Linked DNA regions of Homo sapiens. The protein of the gene in region 2 purifies or fractionates together with the protein of the main gene of each other region. This does not show direct contact. Each region holds a gene or a part of one and is shown on either strand. Other genes may lie near its edges.

What was found. The genes of interacting proteins can lie anywhere in the genome.
Region 1: the proteins of OR10G2 (region 2) and ATP12A purify together in Homo sapiens (affinity purification with mass spectrometry; one large-scale study listed by BioGRID and IntAct). This does not show direct contact.

What each region holds. Positions count from the first base shown.
Region 1 is NC_000013.11:24,697,408-24,700,907, forward strand, and holds part of ATP12A (potassium-transporting ATPase alpha chain 2), read left to right. Parts: intron 1-1,250; coding exon 1,251-1,443; intron 1,444-3,339; coding exon 3,340-3,500. UniProt on the Homo sapiens protein: The catalytic subunit of a H(+)/K(+) ATPase and/or Na(+)/K(+) ATPase pump which transports K(+) ions in exchange for Na(+) and/or H(+) ions across the apical membrane of epithelial cells.
Region 2 is NC_000014.9:21,633,336-21,636,360, reverse strand, and holds OR10G2 (olfactory receptor 10G2), read left to right. Parts: upstream 1-1,420; 5' UTR 1,421-1,518; coding exon 1,519-2,451; 3' UTR 2,452-2,525; downstream 2,526-3,025. UniProt on the Homo sapiens protein: Odorant receptor.

The DNA.
Region 1 (3,500 bases), on a different chromosome or scaffold from region 2:
CAGATTGCTTGAGCCCAGGAGTTCAAGACCAGCCTGGGCAATATACCAAGACCTTATCTCTACAAAAAAAACAAAAAACGAAATTAGCTGGGCATGGTGGCACATACCTGTAGTCCCAGCTACTTGGGAGGCTGAGGTGGGAGGATTGCTTGAGCCTGGGAGGTCGAGGCTGCAGTGAGCTGTGATCGTGCCACTGCACTCCAGCCTGGGGCACAGAGTGGGACCCCGTCTCAAAAAAAAAAAAAAAAAAATTTAAGAGAGAAAGAGAGAAAGAAAAAGAAAAGGCCTATATTTTAGAAAGTGATAGAGCTGGGAGGTTTTCTGTTTGGTTTGGTTTTTGTTGGTTGGTTGGTTTTCTCAATGTCTTTACTTGATCATTAAAAAAAGCAGCAGCAGCAGCTGGTAACCCTATTTGCCCTATACTTCTTTTTGTACTCATCTTTGATACCCAGAAGTCTAAGAAATACTGATTTGTAAAGAACTGTTTTACCCAAAATTGTAGCACTTTTCTTTGCAACTTATTTTCTCCCAAACACTCCAGCTTCCTGAGATTCCTCTTGAGTGCTTAGAAGAGTACCTGGCTTATCAGAAGGGCTAGATAAGAGTTAGTCCTTTTATTCTTGTATATCGATTTTTTTTGCATATCTTATTAGGATGGATCTAGAAGTAGAATTGCTGGGTCAAGAGCATTCCTATTAAAATGGAGACTCCTGTGACTCGGCTGTCTTCCTGAAACATTATACGTGGAAGTGTCCACTTCCTCACACCCCGCCATTTTCTATGACATCCAAGCAGGAAAACTGGGTGGACAATGAGGTGAGGAGGTGCAGAAATTCCTGTCGCCTCCTCCCCTCCTGAGCTCAGAATAGTTTGGGTCTGAAAGACGGCTGCTCCCCACAGGGAGGTAGAGGAGGTGAGATGCAGAGGCTCGCAGCCCCCTAACTCTCACGGGCACCCTGGGAGATCTTGTTCAAGGCACAAGATTTCACACGCTGACGGCCACAACTAGCCTGCCTAAAGCAGCCAGTTTTGCTTGAAAGATGAGCTCCACTTATCCAGAGTGGGTGCCCCACTCTGGGCTGGGGCCAAGTCTAGAGCTCTTCGTCTTACTTGGCCACAGAAAGAAAAAGGGCGGAACATGCTGAGGATGCCATTGTGCCTCTTCCTCCTTTACATTTAATGGACCAGTAGAGAAGAAGGAATGCGTTTCACCTTTCTGTAAGTAACACGCTCAGTTCATTCCTTCCCAGCTCTCCATCCACGAGATGGATGACCCCCACGGCAAGCGCTTCCTCATGGTGATGAAGGGGGCCCCTGAGCGCATCCTAGAGAAATGCAGCACCATCATGATCAACGGCGAGGAGCACCCACTGGACAAGAGCACTGCCAAGACCTTCCACACAGCCTACATGGAGCTGGGCGGGTTGGGCGAGCGTGTGCTGGGTGAGTGCGGCGGCAGGGCCCTGCCCATCACCTGGTGGGCACAGAGATGAGGCAGGCGCCTTGAGGACCTGTGACCTAGCCCAGTGGCCATGGCATCCACGTGAAGCATGTAAAGGAGAACATGATAAGCAGGATGGGAACAAGGAGAGGATGCTGTGTGACAGCACCAAGCAGGGTGGGATGGCCTCCAGAGAGGCAAGCTCAGGGAAGACTTTATGGAAGGAGTTAAATTTCAAACTGGGCCTTAAGTGACTGCATTTGAGGGGAGATAGGGGAAAGTATCCAGGGCCCAGGGAACAGCACAGGCCAATCACAGAGGCAGAACGGCGTGGGGCACATTGGGTGCTGCCAGCAGGTGAGATGGCACTGTCACAGAAACAGGGTTCAAGGGCTGGACTGGAGGTCATGAGATGGAGGTCTTGAACATCTGGGTGAGGAGCCAGGTTTCATCCTGCAGTCAGTAGAGAGCACTGAGGGCTGTGCCACTAGAGTGAGCTGGGCAGTCGCAGGGCTGGGGAAGACTTTATGGAAGGAGTTAAATTTCTTTAACTTCTTTAAATGTCTTTGGCGGCAGCAGGGAGAGGAGAGATGCACATCTCCATAGGAAGCAGCTGCCCTTGCTCAGGCAAAAGGGATGGGAATTTTTTCAGGGTGATGGGAATGGGAAGGAGAGATCAGGGCAAGAGACTTCATAGAGGTAGAGTTTGGTAAGATTTAGAACCTATCAGAGAAGGATAATGTTTAAAAATGATTAAGCTTCCCATTTAACGACTAGGAAGAGAGTGATGCCAGTGATGCAGACAAAGTGTCAGGAAGGAAGGAACCTTAGAAATGCAACAGGAGGAGGACCCAATGGGGGTGCCTGCGGTGTTGTCAAAGGGGACAGTGTGTCCTGTTGTCAGCACCAGGGCTGGCGGAATGGTGCCCCATCAGGACCACAGAATGACAAATTCAAGGAAACAGAAGTGTATGGTTGACGATCCGGCTCATTAAACACCATGGAAGTCCTCACCAATACAGATGCAGTCTGTGGAATGTGTGTTTCTAAAGGCTATTGGAGTTGGCAAATCAGATAAAGCATATAAATGAGATGGTGATGCTTTAGGCATCCAATAACCCACAGTACCGGGTATTCTACACGGGATCGATGCCCACTTGCGTTTGATTTCTCAAAGCCTGCTCCATTGACATTTGCAAAGCAGTGGGCCAGGCTGAAAATAAATTGGATGTGAAAGCTGATCACACAATCTTGGAGGTCCCACCAGACACAAGAGTCCCTTCCACCTCAGCCTATGAGAGGCTGATGCCTTCTGAGAAAAGGATGGCTCGGCCCCATTCCTGCTGGCCTTTCTCTTGGGCTTATCTTGATCTAGCACTGAACTTTGTGCCCCTCCGCTGAACCCCCTTGTTCCTTCACATGCTGTTTTCTCTGCTGAAAATGGCCTTCCCACCTCCACCCTCCCTTTTTTCCCTAGAAATCATCTTTGCCCCTCTCAAGCTTCACCTCACATGTGACCTCCTTGGGGAAGTCTCTCCTAATCCTCCAGGCAGCTGAAATGTGTCTCTGCCCTGAGATGTACCCTATGCTTGATCCCTTTAACTCTGTGCCCCGCTAAACTTCAGAAGTCGAGACTGTGTATTGCCCTAGAACTTGGCAATATAGCAAGATATATTTCTAGAACACAGAGCCTAATGAGCTCACAGTGAATTATATTTGGATGAAATATGTCTTTCCTAAAAAAATGCATTATGGAGTTGAAGAAATTAAACAATTCTGGCTTATTCTAATGTATTGGTAAAACAGCAGAGGACCAAGGTGTATGAGCATGTTCTCCTCTTATTTTTTTTCGTTTCCTATTCTAGTTTCACTGACTCACTAATTCATCTGTATTACAGGTTTCTGTCATCTCTACCTGCCAGCAGACGAGTTTCCAGAAACCTACTCATTTGACATAGACGCTATGAACTTTCCGACCTCCAACCTCTGTTTTGTGGGACTCTTGTCAATGATCGATCCCCCTCGGTCCACCGTGCCAGATGCAGTCACCAAATGCCGG
Region 2 (3,025 bases):
ATGAATTAAGTTATTTCACAGAATACTTAAGATAAAATCTCTTTGGAGAATTTCCGATAGAGATTAAACTTATTAATATTCACATGTTATTTATAATAATCTATTGTCATTTTAATTGCTTTATGAAAGTAGTCATTTGCATTACAAAGATATTTTGTAGTTAAATGAAAGATAAATGCATCTCAAACCATATATAGAGCGAAAAGTCTTTATCAAGCAACCTATTTAACAAAAAGAGTGAAACAAACACATTCCATCCCTCTATTTTATCATCTTGTTCAGATACTTGAAAATCTGTAAATGTCTTTAGAGAGAGTTGCTGTTTGATAGACTGCAATACATAGATATTACACACAAGCACACTAAAGATCAAGTCCTGCATTAATCAATGATTTTATAACAAACAATAAAAATTCCTCTGTGACCTCATACCAAAAAAAAAACCCAATCCCAAACCAATGAACCATATAAATCAACAAATAAATCTAAATGATATCCTGGAGCAAAAACAGGCATAAATGTTTCTTGGAGTTTTTTATAATGAAATTATACCCATATTACATGGTGAATGAGGTGGTCCCTTGACCTAAAAGTCCCAGCCATGTGAGCACAGGGGTCAGACAAAAAAGATCAAGAGAAACAATGTATTCAGTCAGGGGGATTTGGCAACATCCATTCTATCTATCTCAGTCATTCAGAAAATAATTACGGTATTTATCACTTTTAGCATGCTAGACGGGATGATTATTAAGAGAGAAAAACAGAAATTAGACAATGCAACATAATGTACGTGCTCAGAAAAGTATAAGCATTGTCCTCAGGGATCCGGAAAGCCTTCTTGAAGGTGAAGACACTCAAACTGAATCCTGAAGGAAAAGTGGGCACTACCTATGTGAAGGGAGCAGAAAAGATAGTGTGTGCGTAAGTCCCAAGTTAGAGCACACTACTGTGAGAAGCTTGAAGAGTGTCATGCCTCCCAACAATAAGAAGGAATTACAAGTGGTACAATAGCGATATAAATAAGGGCCAGATGAGGAATATTTTTGCATGATATGTTAAGGAGATGAGATTTTAGCTGAGGAAAAAGGGGACAATGATAGTAGGTGAAGAAAAAGTAGATGTGGTCATTATAGGGTGTTTGTTCCACACTGCTCTGCATCAACTTTAGCCCCTCCTTGGCGAACTCACTTTTTGGTTGGAATTTTCGGTACTTCTCTATCACTCTCATGTGTCCCTCTTCCTTCATCTGGCAAATCCTGGCTTTCAGTATCTCTCAATGGACAAGAGTTTCCTCCCATCTAGGAAACTAACCAGCCTCTGGAGGACTTCTCCTTTTAAGTAAACCTAAATAACTAATGGTGACACCACCTCCTCTTTTAAAAAACAATTTGACTCTATCTTGTTTATCTCATAATTCCTAGGCATCAATCATCCGACAAAAGCATTCACTTACAACATCATTGTGCTGTGTTTCTCTTGTCAAACGTCACCATTCATCTTAGCAGACTACAAAAAGACATGGGAAAGACCAAAAACACATCGCTGGATGCCGTGGTGACAGATTTCATTCTTCTGGGTTTGTCTCACCCCCCAAATCTAAGAAGCCTCCTCTTCCTGGTCTTCTTCATCATTTACATCCTCACTCAGCTGGGGAACCTGCTCATTCTGCTCACCATGTGGGCTGACCCGAAGCTCTGTGCTCGCCCCATGTACATTCTTCTGGGAGTGCTCTCATTCCTGGACATGTGGCTCTCCTCAGTCACCGTTCCTCTGCTTATTTTGGATTTTACTCCTTCCATCAAGGCTATCCCGTTTGGTGGCTGTGTGGCTCAACTGTATTTCTTTCACTTCCTGGGCAGCACCCAGTGCTTCCTCTACACCTTGATGGCCTATGACAGGTACCTGGCAATATGTCAGCCCCTGCGCTACCCAGTGCTCATGAATGGGAGGTTATGCACAGTCCTTGTGGCTGGAGCTTGGGTCGCCGGCTCCATGCATGGGTCTATCCAGGCCACCTTGACCTTCCGCCTGCCCTACTGTGGGCCCAATCAGGTGGATTACTTTATCTGTGACATCCCCGCAGTATTGAGACTGGCCTGTGCTGACACAACTGTCAATGAGCTTGTGACCTTTGTGGACGTCGGGGTAGTGGCCGCCAGTTGCTTCATGTTAATTCTGCTCTCGTATGCCAACATAGTAAATGCCATCCTGAAGATACGCACCACTGATGGGAGGCGCCGGGCCTTCTCCACCTGTGGCTCCCACCTAATCGTGGTCACAGTCTACTATGTCCCCTGTATTTTCATCTACCTTAGGGCTGGCTCCAAAGACCCCCTGGATGGGGCAGCGGCTGTGTTTTACACTGTTGTCACTCCATTACTGAACCCCCTCATCTATACACTGAGGAACCAGGAAGTGAAGTCTGCCCTGAAGAGGATAACAGCAGGTTGAAGGACTGAATGAAAATAAGTAACTACATCTGCATCATTATCACTGCCACTCTCTTCAGCTACTGCTGCATGTGACAAATGCCCAATAAACTGCTAAGGATTTAAAGTGAATTTATTTTCATTTTCTTTGGCAGAAAATTCTGAATTATTTCGACCCAAAATCTTTTCCCCTAATTAAACTGGTTCAGGTTGTTTTACATAATCTTTTAGAAATAAATGGATACATTATTTCTATCACCTCTATCTTGTGAGATGAGAAAATGCCTTACCAAAGGTTGAATAAGATGAGAATGTGTCAATGTCTTAGAAAGTATATCATGCCAGAAAATTTGAAAAGAGTAAAAAGGGGGCTCCATAACCCCTTGTTTCATTGTCTTTGCTCCTAATCCTAGACCCCTCTAAATTCCATTTCTTTGCTTGTGCATGGCATGAATATTTCCAAGCACTTGAACTTGAAAATTCTGGATTATTTGTGTTTTCTTCCTGTCCCTCGCCCTCGTGATGTGCTAACACATCAGATTCTGTCTCCTCAAAACTATGAAACCAGCTCAAACTGATTCAGTGTAGACTGTCTC